2 separate regions of the Homo sapiens genome follow, and region 2 is linked to region 1. Evidence: fine-mapped expression QTL. Tissue or cell type: sun-exposed skin. Region 1 holds a variant in brackets; the other region holds the start of a gene. All regions are shown on one strand. Distances are from middle to middle.

Evidence for each region. PIP is the estimated chance that this variant, and not a neighbour inherited with it, causes the effect.
Region 2: it holds the start of DMTN, and the variant in region 1 is fine-mapped to the expression of DMTN in sun-exposed skin (GTEx, PIP 0.98).

The regions. Positions count from the first base shown.
Region 1 is chr8:22,101,850-22,109,452 of GRCh38, reverse strand. FHIP2B (FHF complex subunit HOOK interacting protein 2B) reads right to left here. Exons shown (of 17, transcript NM_022749.7): 14 at 7,602-7,603; 15 at 7,138-7,278; 16 at 6,825-6,925; 17 at 4,542-6,660. The coding sequence ends at 6,522. It overlaps NUDT18 (nudix hydrolase 18), which reads left to right and starts at 34. Exons shown (of 3, transcript NM_024815.4): 1 at 34-314; 2 at 1,107-1,320; 3 at 1,558-2,575. The coding sequence starts at 153. The coding sequence ends at 2,153. RefSeq lists silencers at 1-460, 5,009-5,156, enhancers at 920-1,693, 2,090-2,234 and a cis regulatory region at 2,162. The variant T/CT (reference allele first, on the strand shown) is at 3,370.
Region 2 is chr8:22,053,467-22,061,069 of GRCh38, reverse strand. It overlaps DMTN (dematin actin binding protein), which reads right to left and starts at 4,256. Exons shown (of 16, transcript NM_001387751.1): 1 at 3,934-4,256. RefSeq lists enhancers at 252-1,213, 2,177-3,138.

The DNA.
Region 1 (7,603 bases):
GTGCGCTTCCGCGTTCGCGTGCGCTTCCGCGTTCTCGTGAGCTCCCGGCCCGCTGCCGCAGGGACTGGGAGCGGGCTCCGCAGCGCACTCTAGCCCGCGGCTCGGCTCAGTCGGTCTGCGAGGATCCGGCCCGCCGCCCCCCGGGGGACCCGATGGCCTCGGAGGGCCTGGCGGGGGCGCTGGCTTCCGTGCTGGCTGGCCAGGGGTCCAGCGTGCACAGCTGCGACTCGGCGCCGGCCGGGGAGCCGCCGGCGCCCGTGCGGCTGCGGAAGAACGTGTGCTACGTGGTGCTGGCCGTGTTCCTCAGCGAGCAGGTGAGCGGCCGCCCCCGGGCCCGCCGGGCCTCGGGAGCGCGCAGCCAGCCCAGGTGGGGACAGAAGACCCAACGGCCACAGCCAGCGCTGCCGCGTGCGTGGCGCTTCCCAGTTTTGCAAAGCACTCCCACTCCCACTCGCATCTGTGTCCTGCGTTCGTCCCGATATGCAGAAGAGGAAACTGAGGCCCGGGGCCTGTTTGTCTCATCCGACTAGGCCTCATTCCTTCCCTTCCCCAGAGTCTAGCGGAGTGCCCAGGGCCCCTCAGATAGCAGTGGCTCAATCCCGGCTTACCTTCAGGCCTTTGGTGCTGATGCCTGTAGTGGGCGATGTAATGACAACTAGACGGGGCCAGGGCCATAGGGCGGGGTTGTACAGAGCGGAGGTGGGGGTCGTGTTTCAAGCCAGACCCCAGTGTGAGGACCCATCACAGTTTGTAAACCACGCCGTTGGAGGCGAGAGATACACAGTGGCAGGTACAGACGCAAATCAATCCAAGACAGACAGACACATGGTGACCCTCACTCTGGGGCCTCATCTCCAGCCCCTGAAGCGGCTTCCAGGAATCTCAGCCCTTCCTGAAATGGAAGTCTTCCTAAATCCAGAGAGAGACGAATTGCAGAGAGGAGAGGGCTGCAGCCCCCAGCGACACGAGGGCAGGTCTCCTGGAGCGCTAGCTGGGTTGAGAGTGTCCACCCAGAGGGGAGTCTTGGGCGACTGTGTTTGAGATGCCCCCTGGTCCCGGGGCGAGGGAAGGCTGTGGCAGGAAGTGAGGATCCTCTCTCCTCTCAGGATGAGGTGCTACTGATCCAGGAGGCCAAGAGGGAGTGCCGGGGGTCGTGGTACCTGCCTGCGGGGAGAATGGAGCCAGGGGAGACCATCGTGGAGGCGCTGCAGCGGGAGGTGAAGGAGGAGGCGGGGCTGCACTGTGAGCCCGAGACACTGCTGTCCGTGGAGGAGCGGGGCCCCTCCTGGGTCCGCTTCGTGTTCCTCGCTCGCCCCACAGGTATGGCCCACCTGGAGGCAGTGTGAACAGGGCCAGTTGACACCTTTCCCCCAGCTCCTCGGTGAGGTGAGCCCCTCTACAGCCAGTCCTGTTATGGCTGGCACAGCCTGGCATGGGCAGATTCCAGCCTTTGGGCTGGGGGCCTCTCTCCTGGGTCAGGGATGTCTGTTGACTCTGCCAGAGCTGCACTTCTCTCCACACAGACCCTCCCTGCCCCATCCCCCACATCTCCCCCAGGTGGAATTCTCAAGACTTCCAAGGAGGCCGATGCGGAGTCCCTGCAGGCTGCCTGGTACCCACGGACCTCCCTGCCCACTCCGCTGCGAGCCCATGACATCCTGCACCTGGTTGAACTAGCCGCCCAGTATCGCCAGCAAGCCAGGCACCCTCTCATTCTGCCCCAAGAGCTACCCTGTGATCTGGTCTGCCAGCGGCTCGTGGCTACCTTTACCAGCGCCCAGACAGTGTGGGTGTTAGTGGGCACAGTGGGGATGCCTCACTTGCCTGTCACTGCCTGTGGCCTCGACCCTATGGAGCAGAGGGGTGGCATGAAGATGGCCGTCCTGCGGCTGCTGCAGGAGTGTCTGACCCTGCACCACTTGGTGGTGGAGATCAAGGGGTTGCTTGGACTGCAGCACCTGGGCCGAGATCACAGTGATGGCATCTGTTTGAATGTGCTGGTGACCGTGGCTTTTCGGAGCCCAGGGATCCAGGATGAACCCCCAAAAGTTCGGGGTGAGAACTTCTCTTGGTGGAAGGTGATGGAGGAAGACCTGCAAAGCCAGCTCCTCCAGCGGCTTCAGGGATCCTCTGTTGTCCCAGTGAACAGATAGAGAGGTGGGGGAGGTGACAGGGAGCTAGGCAGCCGTGCTCCCTCCAGTGCGGACTTGTCTCCCTCTGAGGGAGGCAAGAGGCTGGCGATCAGGGATCTTGTTGCATTGGGAGCAGGGGCGGCTCTCCTGGTCCCCAGGAGAGATGCTTTGAGGAGCATTCCTCTAGATTGCACAAGGGACAGTGCCTTTAACCAAGCGAGGAGTCCAAAGCTCAGGACCTGACTACCCTGAGGGCACGCTGACGCCTCTTCCCAGGGGGATGGGGAGCTTTCTGCACCCCCAGTGGCATCTCCTCATCACGTTCTGTGCCGTCCTTGGGAAAGGCCTGCATTCTGATCCTTCCAGGCCCTTCGAGCATGGAGGGGCACTGGGGAAGGTCCCCCGAGGGAGGAGCACGTTGCTGAGTAAAGAGGTGTTACTCACCTTGCCTCCCTGCCTACACGTCTCTGTGGGGAGAAAGTGATGGGGACTACTGTCCAGGAGCTGCTGCTCCCCTCGTGTTACCCACAGGCACCCATGCCTTTCCCAGTGCACTGACAGTGCGGGCCAGTCTGCTGTCCAGCACGGCCCCTGGGGCTCCCTCCAGTTGGCCTGCTGGCCCGGGATGTGACTCTGAGGGGACCCATCCCTAATGAAACACAGCTCTGAGCCCTCCAAGGGTTGGGCAGTGGGCGGCCCCAGAGGAACTTCAAGTGGGACAGGAGCTGCAGGTGCTGCCTCTGCTCTCTCCTTGAGCCTCCCTGGCGCAGACCACTCCCCCTGGCTCTCCTGCCTCTGCCTTTTCACAACTTCAGCCCATGCCAGACCAAACCTTTTCTTCATTTCCCCTCAGCCTCGCTGAATCATGGTAGGATTTTTTTTTTTTTTTTTTTTTTTTTTTGCTAAGTGGCCGGGCACAGTGGCTCACACCTGTAATCCCAACACTTTGGTAGGCTGACACAGGTGGATCACTTGAGGTCAGGGAGTTCGAGACCAGCCTGGCCAACATGGCAAAACCCCATCTCTACTAAAAATACAAAAAACTAGCCGGGCATGTTGGCAGATGCCTGTAATCTCAGATACTTAGGAGGCTGAGGCAGGAGAATCGCTTGAACCCCGGAGGCAAAGGTTGCAGTGAGCCGAGCTCCAGCCTGGGTGATAGACTTCGTCTGAAAAAAAAAAAAAAAAAAAAAGAACTTTGGCCAGGCACGGTGGCTCACACCTTTAACCCCAGTGC[T/CT]TTGGGAGGCTGAGGCAGGAGGATCGCTTGAAGGCCAGAGTTTGAAGCCAGCCTGGGCAACATAGTGAGACCCTGTGTCTACAGGAAAAAAAAAAGGCCAGGCAAGGTGGTGCACACCTGTAAATCCCAGCTATTCAGGAGGCTGAGGCAGGAGGATGGCTTGAGCCCGGGAGGTTGAGGCTGCAGTGAGCCATGCTCAGGCCACTGCACTCCAGTCTGGGTGAGACAGCAAGACCCTCTCTCAAAAGAAAAAAGAAAAGAAAGAGGAAAAAAAGAACTTTACTGAAATTTAAGCAAAATCAAAGGAAATGAACAAATAAAATATATCAAGTGTTCTACGGTAGAGATTTCTGATTCTGAGCAAGGAAACACTAGCACAGGCTCCCCTTCTGAGGGCCAAGATGACCTCCAAGGCCCCTTTCCCAGCCCCCTCCCTGCCTCTCTTGGCTGCCCTCCTTTCTGGGCCCTGGAGGGTGGTAGGAATCCTTGTACCCTCTGAGGACAAATACCTCACAAATGATGGAACCAAACCCCTTTGTTTCAGTTCACTTCTCTCAGTGTCTAAGGGACCCACTGGCCCATATCCAGTCAGCCGGGCAATGACATTTGGCTATTTGCCCCCATTATTTAGCCTAGTAGTTTCCAACCCTGGGCACACGTTAGGGTCACCTGGGTTTTTTTTTTTTTCCCTCAAACAGGGTCTTGCTCTGTCACCCAGGCTGGAGTGGAGTGGTGTGATCCTGGCTCACTGCAGCCTTGACCTCCCAGGCTCAAGTGACAAGTGATTCTCCTGCCTCAGCCTCCCAAGTAGCTGGAACCACAGGCGCATTTTTAAGCTTTTAGTAGAGATGGGGTTCTCACTATGTTGCCAAGGCTGGTCTTGAACTTCTGTCCTCAAGTGATCCTCCCGCCTCAGCCTCCCAAGGTACTAGGATTATAGGCGTGAGCCACCATGCACAACCACCTGGAGAGCTTGAACTCTGGGTGTACCCCCAGCAACAATAATTTAACTGGTGATGGGGCACTGGGCATTGGGATTTTAAAAAGCCACCCAGTGATCAACACGAGTTGAGAGCCAACATCTGGCTCCTTTTCCTCCACGTTCTCAGCCTGCCCTCCCGCAGTCTCTTGGGGACCCCCCTCAGAGGATCCCCCACCCCTCCACACACATCTGAGGACAAAGGGTTTATTTATGTGTTAACTTTTCTTTTTCCCTGAGAACACACCTGTGAAATTTTTTTTTTTTTTTTTTAGACAGGGTCTTACTCTATTGCCCAGGCTGGAGTGCAGTGGTGCAATCGGCTCACTGCAGCCTTGAACTTAAAGACAAGGTTTTAAATATCAGGCCTACTTTATGACTAAAACAGGCATACAACACGCAGCATAAACACACCCAAATGAGACTTGCACACAGATGCTCCCACGTGGTCCATTCCCTCATGGTGTCTCCGGGGTGGGCAGACTCTCCGCTGCAGGTCAGCCCAGCAGAAGTGGCACTGCTCCGCCAAGAGTCTGGCTCCTGGCAGGCGCTGAGGATCAGCAGATCTGCACTGCCAGAGCCTGTCTGTTTACCGCCCACCCCACCTCCCTGCTGCAGCGCTAGAAAAAGAATTTGTCTTCCTTGGGGAGGAAGATGGGCCCGAATTAGCAGTGGAGTCCTGGGCAGAAGGTGGGGAAACTTGGCCAAGAACAGAGCCACGGTGTCCACGCAATCACACCATTTATTGCTGTGCTGTCCGGGGAAGACACCGTGCAAATGCCAAAGTGCACTGAGGAGAGGGGAGGGTCTGTGACTCCCAAACCCTCGAATATTTTATGAATCTAAGAGTCCAGACGCAGTTCATCCACGGAGATCTGCGCCCCGTCCACACCAACACCCACGTTTGTGCACCCACATGTGCACGGTGCTCTTCAGAGCGGCGAGGTCCTCCCCCGCGGGGAGGAATGTGGGAGAGGCAGAGGTCACTGAGTTTCCTCCTGTTTCGTGTCACCTCTTGGCAACCTGTGCCTGGCTTCTAGAAGCGGCATGGGCAAGAAAAGGAAGCAAAAGAGGCTCTGGCCTGCTCCTCCTTGCCCAGGAGCAAAGCCAGCAACTGTGTAGTCCCGCTGTGAGGTAATGCCTGGCGCCGCCCGTGTATTCCTGCAGGTCAAGACAGATTCGGGCCGGGTGGGGTGGCAGCCCAGCCACGGAGGGCATGCAGGGAGAACACCACCAGGACTGGCTGCCTGGGCCGCAGCCACTTCCCGCCAGGCTCAGGGGCCTGGAGTCAGGGGGCGTCCTTCCCTTATCTGTCCCCTGAGCTCCCTGGCTCCCCAGAAGGGTCTTCTATCAAGAACACTGGGCCCTGGGCAGAAGGGAGGGCAAGGCCCGGCCTCCCCTGGTCTCTGACCTCTGCCCAGGTGCTGTGGACCTGCTGAGACGGGTTCAGAAGGCGCCAGAGAGGAACCAGCTGGACCTGAGCCTGGCTCCTGGGCCCGCTCCCCTCCTGGCTGCAGCTGCACCAAGGTTCTCATTAGCAGGGGCCCCCGCCTGGGTGCGGAACATGCTTTGGGCATTTGCCATGAGGCGGCTGGGAGTTTTGCAACAGTTTCCAGGGGAGCAGAGCAGGAAGAGGGGCTTCCCCGACGATCCCATTCACTGCTCCTTCTCCATGGGCCAAGCCATGTAGGCAGGGGACAAAATGTCAGGTCTCAGCAGCTCCCATGGTACCTAATGTGACACAGACAAGGCTCCAGGCCCCATCTCACTGGCCTGGGCTCCTGACCAGTCTCGGAGCCATCAGCTCACTCCCCATCTTGCCCCTGGAGTTGAGTCACAGGCTTGGCCCTGGCCACAAATGGCCAGTACAGAAGGGGCCAGGCACACAGCACATGAGGGTCTGGGGTCTGGGTGCTCACCTGGCTGTCACCCAAGCTCCTCCAAGAAGGCCCCAAGGACCTTGCTGCCTGGAAAGCCATCTGTTTGGCTCCTTGGCACCTGGCATGCCCATTCCCTGAAACCCAGTCTGGTGTGGTCAACATGCCGCAGTCTCCTTGAGTGAGCCCGGGAGCAGAAGCCCCATCCCAGGAGGGGAGTGTGGCGGCAGTGCCAGGCAGGAGGCAGCTCTGGGGCAGAGGTGTGGACAGGAGTCTCCCACCGCCCTGGTGCTGGCTCAGACCTGCCCTTCCGGGGCTGGGGAGACGTTCTGGCGAGGATCATGTGGGGGAAACTTGACGAAGGCAATGGCAGCCAGCTCCTTGCAGAACTCCTCCAGCACCACCACGCCCTGGAGGAGGGTCTGGTGGTCCAGCCTGAGGGGAGATGGCACAGGGGGCATGGCTGGGTGGGGGCAGGACTGTGCCCAGCATGACAGCCCAGCATCCACGAGGCTTGACCCTGTGGCCAGCCACCTCTCCTCCAGAGGCGCTTTCCACTCTCCCACCCCAAGGCTTCACCTGGCACCCTTGGTACTCACTGCTCCCCAGGAGCCTGGCCCGTCAACTGCTTGCGCACCAGGAGCAGCTTGCCTGGGAACTGGGGTACCCTCTGGATTCTCTGCATCAAGTCCCCGATCACCTACAGCGGGAATCACAGGGGACTCAGATGGGGCCAGCAACACCAGTGAGTCCCCTGGCCCTGCCACACCATGCAGAGCATGGGAGACTGTGCTTTCCCTGGCACTGGCAAGGGTGCCCACCCCTCCAGCCCCCAACCACCTGCCCCGTTCCCTTTCCCTGATGTCCCCTCCACCTCACTAGGCACACTCCCTTGGGCCGAGGCGTCCTCACCCTCACCAACACGGAGAATAGGCTCCTGCAGCCGGGGGCCAGGCTGATGTACGGATCCAGCAGGTACTCATGAATATGGGGGTGGGGGAAGAGGGCAAGCCGGGACAGGACCGAGGTCACCTGCAGGTTCAGGCTGTATGGCTGTAGGAACATGGTGGACAGAGCCGAGGGCTGGCAGGGCTGGTGAGTATTTTTGCACTCCCCCAGCAAGGTGCCTGGCCACTGTGAACGTGTGTGGGGGTGGGAGGCTCACGTGATGTGTGTGTGTCATGGATTCCATGGGGCTGAGGGCCAGAACGTGTTAGGACGTGTGGAGCAGGGGTGAGACGGGGCTTCCCACCTGGGGAAAGGACAGGGGTGGCACCAAAGAACCGAAGCAGAGGCAACCCTGTGGCCAACCTCTGCTCTTGAAGGACCCCAGAGGCACCAGCCTGGAGTTCTCCTGGCCCAGGCCCACTAGCTACCT
Region 2 (7,603 bases), 48 kb after region 1:
GAATTCCTGGGCTCAAGTGATCCTCCCACCTCTGCCTCCCAAAATGTTGGGATCATAGGTGTGAGCCCCTGCCCAGCCCATCTTTGTTTCAATTTAACCCTTACATTCCAATCTTGTGGGTTGGCTTGGATTGGCGAGTACCTCGTTTGCACATGAAGAAGTTGAGACTTGAACAAGTTAAGTAGTTGGTCAAGGACACAGTATTGTGTGGAATCTAAGCTCAGGTCTGTCTGATTTCTAAAACCATTCACCAGGATACTACCCAGGCAAAGCTGGTGTGAGTCACTAAGCCTCTGGCCTCTCACCTCTGCTCTGTCTCCAGTCCCTTCCTGCCCACAACCCCACTGCTGGGTCTTGCGCTTTAGCATCTGGGTCTGCTTCCTGGGGTCAGCCAGGGCCCTGCACCCTGGTGCCACCCCCTGCCATTTGTTAGAGAGCATGTTGGTTGATAAATTATTTCCACAGAGGCAGAAATTTTGTCTTACCCCTTGTGGGGCATTTGCACGTAAACGTGGGCCTAGCCTTAAGGCATAATGTTTGTACTGGTTAAATTTTAAGCTGTCAGAAGGCCAGCCGGGAAAATGGGGGTGGAGAAGAGTGTGTGTATATGTGTGTGTGCGTGCGCATGTGTGAGGGGGAGAGAGAGAGAGAGAGAGCGAGACAGAAAGAGAGAAAGAGAGAGAGAGTTTCCTTGGCTTCTCTCAAATCACACCCTGCCTACTCCACCCACAAGTAGCCCTTTCCATCAAAGCTCATTTCTCGCAGGTCAAGTGCCAGCTCACTCCACCTCCTCCCATCCAGACCCCTCTCCCATCCATGCACCCCGCCTGTCTGTGCCTGCATCCCCAAGGTCCCAGCGACCTCCGTGCACAAAGAGATAGAAAGGGCGAGCTGCAGCAGGAAGAGGGGAGGGAGGGAGGAAGAGAGAGCACCACAGAGGAAGGCAGGTCCAGGTGACGGAAGGGACAGCTCAGCTGCCCCTGGCCCTGGTCGGACGCCAGCCAGCCGCTCGCCCTCCATCTCAGCCCCACCCTCCCCCAGCTGTGTGTCCCTGCCTTATCTGAGCCACCAGCCCAGCCCCACCTCACCCACCACCCTCTCCTCTCCACAGCTCCCCAGGATGTGGGTGATAAGACCCGCCCACTGGGCCCTCCGAGTTTGTGCCCACTCATCCTGGCGCGCTCTTCTTCCAGGCAGAAACTGATCCAGACTGTGGCTCCCCTGGACTTTTAGAAATGAAGCCTCCGCAGGCAGAATGGCAACTTCGGGGTGGAGGGCCCCTGGTCTAGCTGTGCTCCTGTTTCCAGCCAACCACTACCTGCTTGGTGGCAGCCCCTGTATACTTGGGACTTTCATACATCGTCTCTAAACCTCACACAAAACGACATTCTCCTCATTTAGAGATGAGCAAAAATGAAGCTGAGAGGTGAACTTGCCGAAGGCCCCCCAAATAGAAGCCAAGCCAGAATCCCTACCCCGGCCTGCCTGAGGCCAAAGCCAAGTGCTCTTTTCAATGAGTACCAAAGATCCCAGTTCAATCAAAATGTGGGACTTGGGGGTCCCACGTGCTAACCTTAGACAGTGGAGCCACCCAGAGTCCTGCTCGTTGATGGCATCTGTAGAAGAGCAGCTGGGAGTGTGGGGGCCTCTGGCTCCGGGCCACACAGGCAGCAGGGTCCAGCCAGGCTGGAGGCCGGCTGGTGCAGACAGTAAGTGAATTATGAAACGAGGCAAGTCATCCAAGCAGGCTGGCGTCGGTGGGCAGGGAACTTTGCCCCGCTTCGCCTTCTCCTGTTCTGTTCACAGTGCGACTGCCTGGCCCTCTCTCCCTTTCTTCCTCCTGTCTTTCTGCTTTCTCTTCTGGTCCCTTTTCTTGGCTTTCTTCATCTTTTCTCCCTCCCTCCCTCTTTCCCTTTCACCCTCTCCCCTACCCAGCCCCACCCCCGCAGTTACTGTGGCAACAATTCAATGCCAGAAATAAAGGCAGAATCCAGCTAGGTCACCAGTTCCCAAAACAGCATCCTGGGTGGGGAGGGGCAGGGAGGGTGGAGCAGTGCGGCGCTGCAGGGCAGGGGCCAGGCGCTCCCATGGGTGCTGTGCATGCGTGTGATGTGGGTGGGGTAGGGCACCTTGCTCCCCGCACCCCCCCGCCACTGGAAAAGGACACCAGGAGGCTGAGGCCTGCTCTGGGCCAGTGGCTCATCAGAGGTGTCCCTTACTTAGGCGAAGCCTGAACTCCAAGTCTGTCCTAAGGCTGGCAGAGCCTGGGGACTCCCTCCTCTTCTCCCACTTTCTCCCTCTCCCCTACTCCAATGTTTTTTACCGTTGTGTCTGCTGGGATGAGGGTTCCCCTAACCCAGCACTACAGGGCACCCTCTCATACTCGGATAAAGGACCAGGCCTGGGTGGGTGGGGAGCCCAGAGTCCCCCTGCTCAAGGCCTGCCCTCCCTTGTTCTCTCAATAACAACAAAACCGGGCCCAGGTGCCCCCTCCTGCCTCTCTAGCCCACCCAGAGACGCATCTGTGCAGCCATCTTCTCCTAGGTCTCTCTCTGGTTTGGTTTCTATGTGCCCTCTCCACCCACCCTCTGAAGAGACCCCGCTTTCTGCTTTCTGCATCCTGCAGCCCCCTCAGGCGGACTGCTTCCCCTCCATTTATAGCTGGTCCTGTTGTACAAGTGGGACTGGCAGAGCTGGGGGAGATGCAGCCTCAATTCAGCTTTCTGGATCCCAGGGCCTCCCTGTTCCAGTCCCACAACACCCAGGAGCTCTAGGAGAGGGATTCTGCAGACATCCACCCACGGGTGGACAACCTCACCCAGGAGTCTAACGCCTGACCACAGAGAGGCCGGCAGCACGGACACAAGATGGACAGGTGGGCACAGGCAGAAGCGCCCGCGCTGAAACCGTTGCAGGACGCATGCACGCGGGGAGACTCCGAAGCCCTGTGTGCCAGCTCATGCCCCCACTCTCCCATCGAGGCCCCCTCACTGTGACACATGGTGCTGCCAACACCCGCTCACACCCACCCACCGGTCCTCTCCCTGGCATCCATCCCAGAGTAGTGCACGTGTACAGCAACATACACAGAGCCCTCCACTTACCCAGCTCTGGAGGCCTTCCCTGGGCTCCCCATTCCCACAGCCCAACTGCCTTCCTTGTCTTGGACCTGTCCCTGCTCCCCTGACTCTCACAACCAGGCAACTGGTCCCTGGAAGGGACACACTGGGTGTGTCTGCCCAAGAAAGGGGGCTGGACCTGCTAGGCCCTGAGGGACAGAGCTAGGGAGGGGGAGCCCCAGAACCCTGTGGGGGCTGCATGTCTGCTCAGCCCTGGCCCCTTCAAGCACCCCAGCGGCGGGCACAGGGGGAGTACTGGGCTTGGGCTTGCAGCTGCGCCCTGCCACAGCCTCACTCTTCACTCAGCCCCACCCCAGCCTGGCCAGCCACTGGCTGGGGGCAGGCTCTCCTCCCACTCCCCCTAAAAAGCAGGCTCCAAACAAACAGCCTCAGGCCCCTAAATGTACTGCTCCAACCCCCAGAGCATGTGGAGTGGTTTTGGGGAGGCCAGCGGGCCAGTATTCAGCAGAGAGGGAATGCTCCCCTGCCCACCCCGTGCCCCCACAGTCCATCCCTTCCATTGCTGGCCTGCTCAGCTAGGTAGGCCAGGCAGAGATGCTGGCAAAGAGGGGATTGGGCTGGGAGCAGTTCTCATCCTTGGGATGAGAACACCCCAGGCCCTCTTCCCCAGATCAGAAGGTTCCATTAGATCAGGCCCAGCTGGTCCCAGGGGCCGGCCCATCCTCCCACTGAACAGGGCCCACAGTGGGCTCCCCCCAGATACCCTGCTGCCACCCAAAGCCTGGCTCGCCAGCAAGCGCTGTGGCCCAGAGTGCCCACAGAGGGGAGGAGAGGCGGAGACCCTGCCACCTACCTCTTCCCAGACAGTGTGGCCCAGACGCTCTGAGGCCACAGAGGCCCGAGAGGCGTAGGCCAGATCCACGGGCTGTCACTTCCCCCAGGAGCCTAGGTAATAGGTGTCTCTTCCAGGAACCCCGCGGCGCTTCCCCGGAGCACAAATAACAGGAAAAATGCCGGCTTAGGGTGGGTGGGCGGGGTGGGAGCTGGCGAAGGAGGGGAGCTGGTCTCGGCTGAGCGGTCTGATCTCCCCTCTGGGCCCCCACCCTCCTTGCCCCCACCCTGCTTCTCTGCAACGCACGGCCGCCTGGATCCCCCGGTGCTGGGGAGTCCTCGTCTGGGGGCGGGAGGGCGGGCGGGCTGCTGGCTCCCCCACGCCCTCCCCGCGCCCTCCCCACTTCCAGCTGATAGCGTGTGGCTGGCAAGGGTGTGTGTGTGGATGTGCGCGCTCTTCCACCAGCGCTGCAGCTCAATCCATTTCAAACAAGAGGAGCATTAACCCAGCGTCATGACAAAGCAGAATCAGCCAGCACTGTCCTCTCCCTTTCCCACACCGCAGTCTGCAGCACTCACACGCACACACACACCCACACGCACCCAGAGCCCCTCAGCCTCCTCCTAAACAGCCAGAGTTCAAGTTGCTGTGGGCGGTGGGTCGAGGGAGGGGGCTACTGATGACCCAGGCGGACAATGCCTGCTTTCTCCAGGCACCTGCACCTCCTACCCTATTCATGACCACCCCACCATCTGACAGCAGCAACTGAGGCCTCTGGGGCCCAGCCTCTTGAGGTGGGGGTGCAGGCACAGGCCAGAATTGGTTACCCAAGGATGAGCTCTCTCCTGGGAGGGTAGAATGGAGGGATGCAACCAGGTCCTCAGTACTGAGACTTGAGCTGGCCCCTCAGTAACCTGAATCCCCTGGGAACTCCAATGGGATGCAGCAGAGAGAGAGAAGGACCCCATCTCTCCCTAGGGTGGCTTCATGAAAAAGGAGCTTCCTGCCTGGTAACCCCTGGGTCCCAGCACAGAATTTACAGGCATGTGCCTTCCCTGTCTCTAGCAAAGCCTCAACCACCCCAGGAGCCTCTCATTGGCCTTTCGGGCCCCCTGGGCAGGATGGGGAAGGACAACAAGCCTTGCCCTCGACCCTCGCCCTGGCCCCAATGTCCTCTCCACCTCCACACCGCAGACTTGCCTACCTAGGCAGCCCTCACCGTTGCCCTGGCAACCCTGCCCCCAGCCGGTCAGCTGATGGTATCAGCTGTTGTTGGGGAAATCTAGAATCTGGGGAGGGGGCTCTGGGGTGTCTGAATGGAGAAGCACAGGGGGAGGGGCTTGAGGGAAGAGGCCAGGAGGGGACAGAAAGTATCTGGCTGGTGGGGACAGAGAGGACAGTAACCTGAGGGATGGGCTCCAGAGAGAAGGGAGGAAGGAAGGAGGCAGGTGGCTGAGAAGGGAGACAGAACACAGGCTGAGCTGCTGCAGCCAGGCGGGGGTGGCTGTGAAGGTAGAGAAAACCTGGGGGTGGGGGATGAAGCATCAGATCCATGGAACTGCAGAGAAAAAGGCCAGGAGAGTGATGTGGGAGGGGGCATACCTTCAATGTGGCAGAAAGGGGCACAGCCTTGGAGGAGGAGCCACTCCAGCCATCGCTCCACAACCAGCCCGGCCTCAGCCCAGCCTCTCGGCTTTCTGTACCTTCAACCCCACCCTTACTTCCCTCTAATCAGAGTCTGAGAGACAGAGGGGAAGCCCCAGCCCCACTCCAGCCCTAGATGATCTCTCTCGGTCCCTCCAGCGGACCAGGTACTTGGGGCTTTGACACCTCAGCCCTTTAGAATTCCTGATCCCCGCCGCACCCCGACCTGGGTTCCTCCCCTGTATTGCCCCTCCCCCACCAGGCCCCACCCCAGGAGAGCTGTCTTCTGGTGCAAGGGTCCCCAGAGGTAGAGTTGGAATGAGCTGATGCCAGGAAGGACAGCTGTGGCCAGGGGCCTGGAACGAGGTGGGTGATGAGGAATGGGTAGAATCGCTGGGCCTGGGAGGAGGGGTGCCTCCTCCTATTGAAGCCAGTGCATGTAGGGCAGAGTAGGGGGAGTCAAGGGGAAAGGGCGGAGGGGAGAAGGAGGGGAGGGTGCTCGGTACCTTCAAGGGCCCAGGGCGTGGGGCAGGAGCGCAGCAGCCTCCTCGGTGACATACACCTCCATCCCTCGGCGCATCTCCTCTCCACCTCCTGTTGCCAAGACAACCTGCCGGCAGCTCAGGCCCGGCTCAGCCGCGGCAGCAGGGAGGGGGGGAGGAGGAAGCTGTGCCTCCCGCTGCCTCTTCCTCAGAGATGGAGGGAGGGGGCCTGAGGGTGGGTCCTCAGTGCTGGGGCTGGGGGTTAGGGGACAGCTTCAGGAGCTAGGGTGCCCAGTGAACCCCACCAAGTACCCCATCCCCCCACTTCCTTTCATAAGGCTCTAGAATTGGCTTTAGGGGTGACCCCAGGAGAACCCTAATTCAGGGCTGGAGAGCAGGCCAGTCTTGAAGAGTATGCAGCACTGGGGAGAGTCCCCACTCCAGGAAGCCCAGTGTGGAGCTCGGGACAATGACAGGCAGCAAGGCAGGGACAGTCCTTGTGCTGAAGGGCCAGAGGGGTTGCTCCGGCAGGGTTCAGAGGCCCCTGGGCGCTGGCTGCACTGGGCACGCGGCTGCGGGCCCCACACCTCTGCCGTCTCTGTGAGCACCTTCACCTGGTCCCAAACCCTCTCTCATTCCACCTGAGAAAACTCAGAGCAAGGGACAGCTCTCTTCCAATTCCTCAAGGCCCCATTCCCACTGTCCCCCACCATGCCTGAGTCTCACATTCTATCGGAATGTCCCTCCATGGGTGGGGCGGGCGGGCCACCTTGGGCAGGAAGAGTGCTCAGCCCAGCCAGGCCTGGACCCAAGGGGACTGCAGAGTGAGGGCTCCCTCTGTCGACCTGAGGAGTGGTAGCTGCCAAGGTCATTTTGCTGCCAGGGATCTGGGCTGTGTGTGTGTGTCTGTGTGTGTGTGTGTGTGTGTATTGGTGGTGGGCGTTCAGAGGGGAGGCAAGGGGACCCTTCTCACCCATGCCATCCTCTGACCCTACCTCGTCACTGTCCTTGTCCCATGGGAAGACTCACTCTGCCTCCGGCCTCCTCCCCCTGGGAAGGCCTCTGACCTCTCAAGGCCAGCTGAACTGAACTCCCCCATGGCTTGTCTGAGAGGGGAGATTCTCCCCCTTGAAAGCTGGCAACACTGAACAACAGGTGCCTGTTGGCTCAGGCCCCAGGCGGGTGGGCTTCCTCAGCTCTGCTCCATACTGAGCAGGCAGGAGGCGGCTGCCAGGGCTCTCATACCTTTGGAAGTTCAGGAGTTCTCAGGACCTTGAGGATGGGCGCTTGTGTCCACAACACGGGGCCAGGATTCCTGTATCTCTCAGGCAGGGGGGTCCCAGGCCCCCCGACGCCCCGTTCTTGGCTCCTTTCCCCACAAGGTCACTGGTGCCAGATGTCCTGGGTGGACTCCGGCCCTGCTGCCTCCTCCCTCCCCCAGGCCCTGTCGATAGGCTTCTCTGTCCACGTCTGGTCTGTCTCACTCCAGTGCCCCCCGGCCCCACCCTACACACCAACCTGCTGGGCGGGGGAGCTATCTAAACATTAACTTCGGGAGAGGTGGA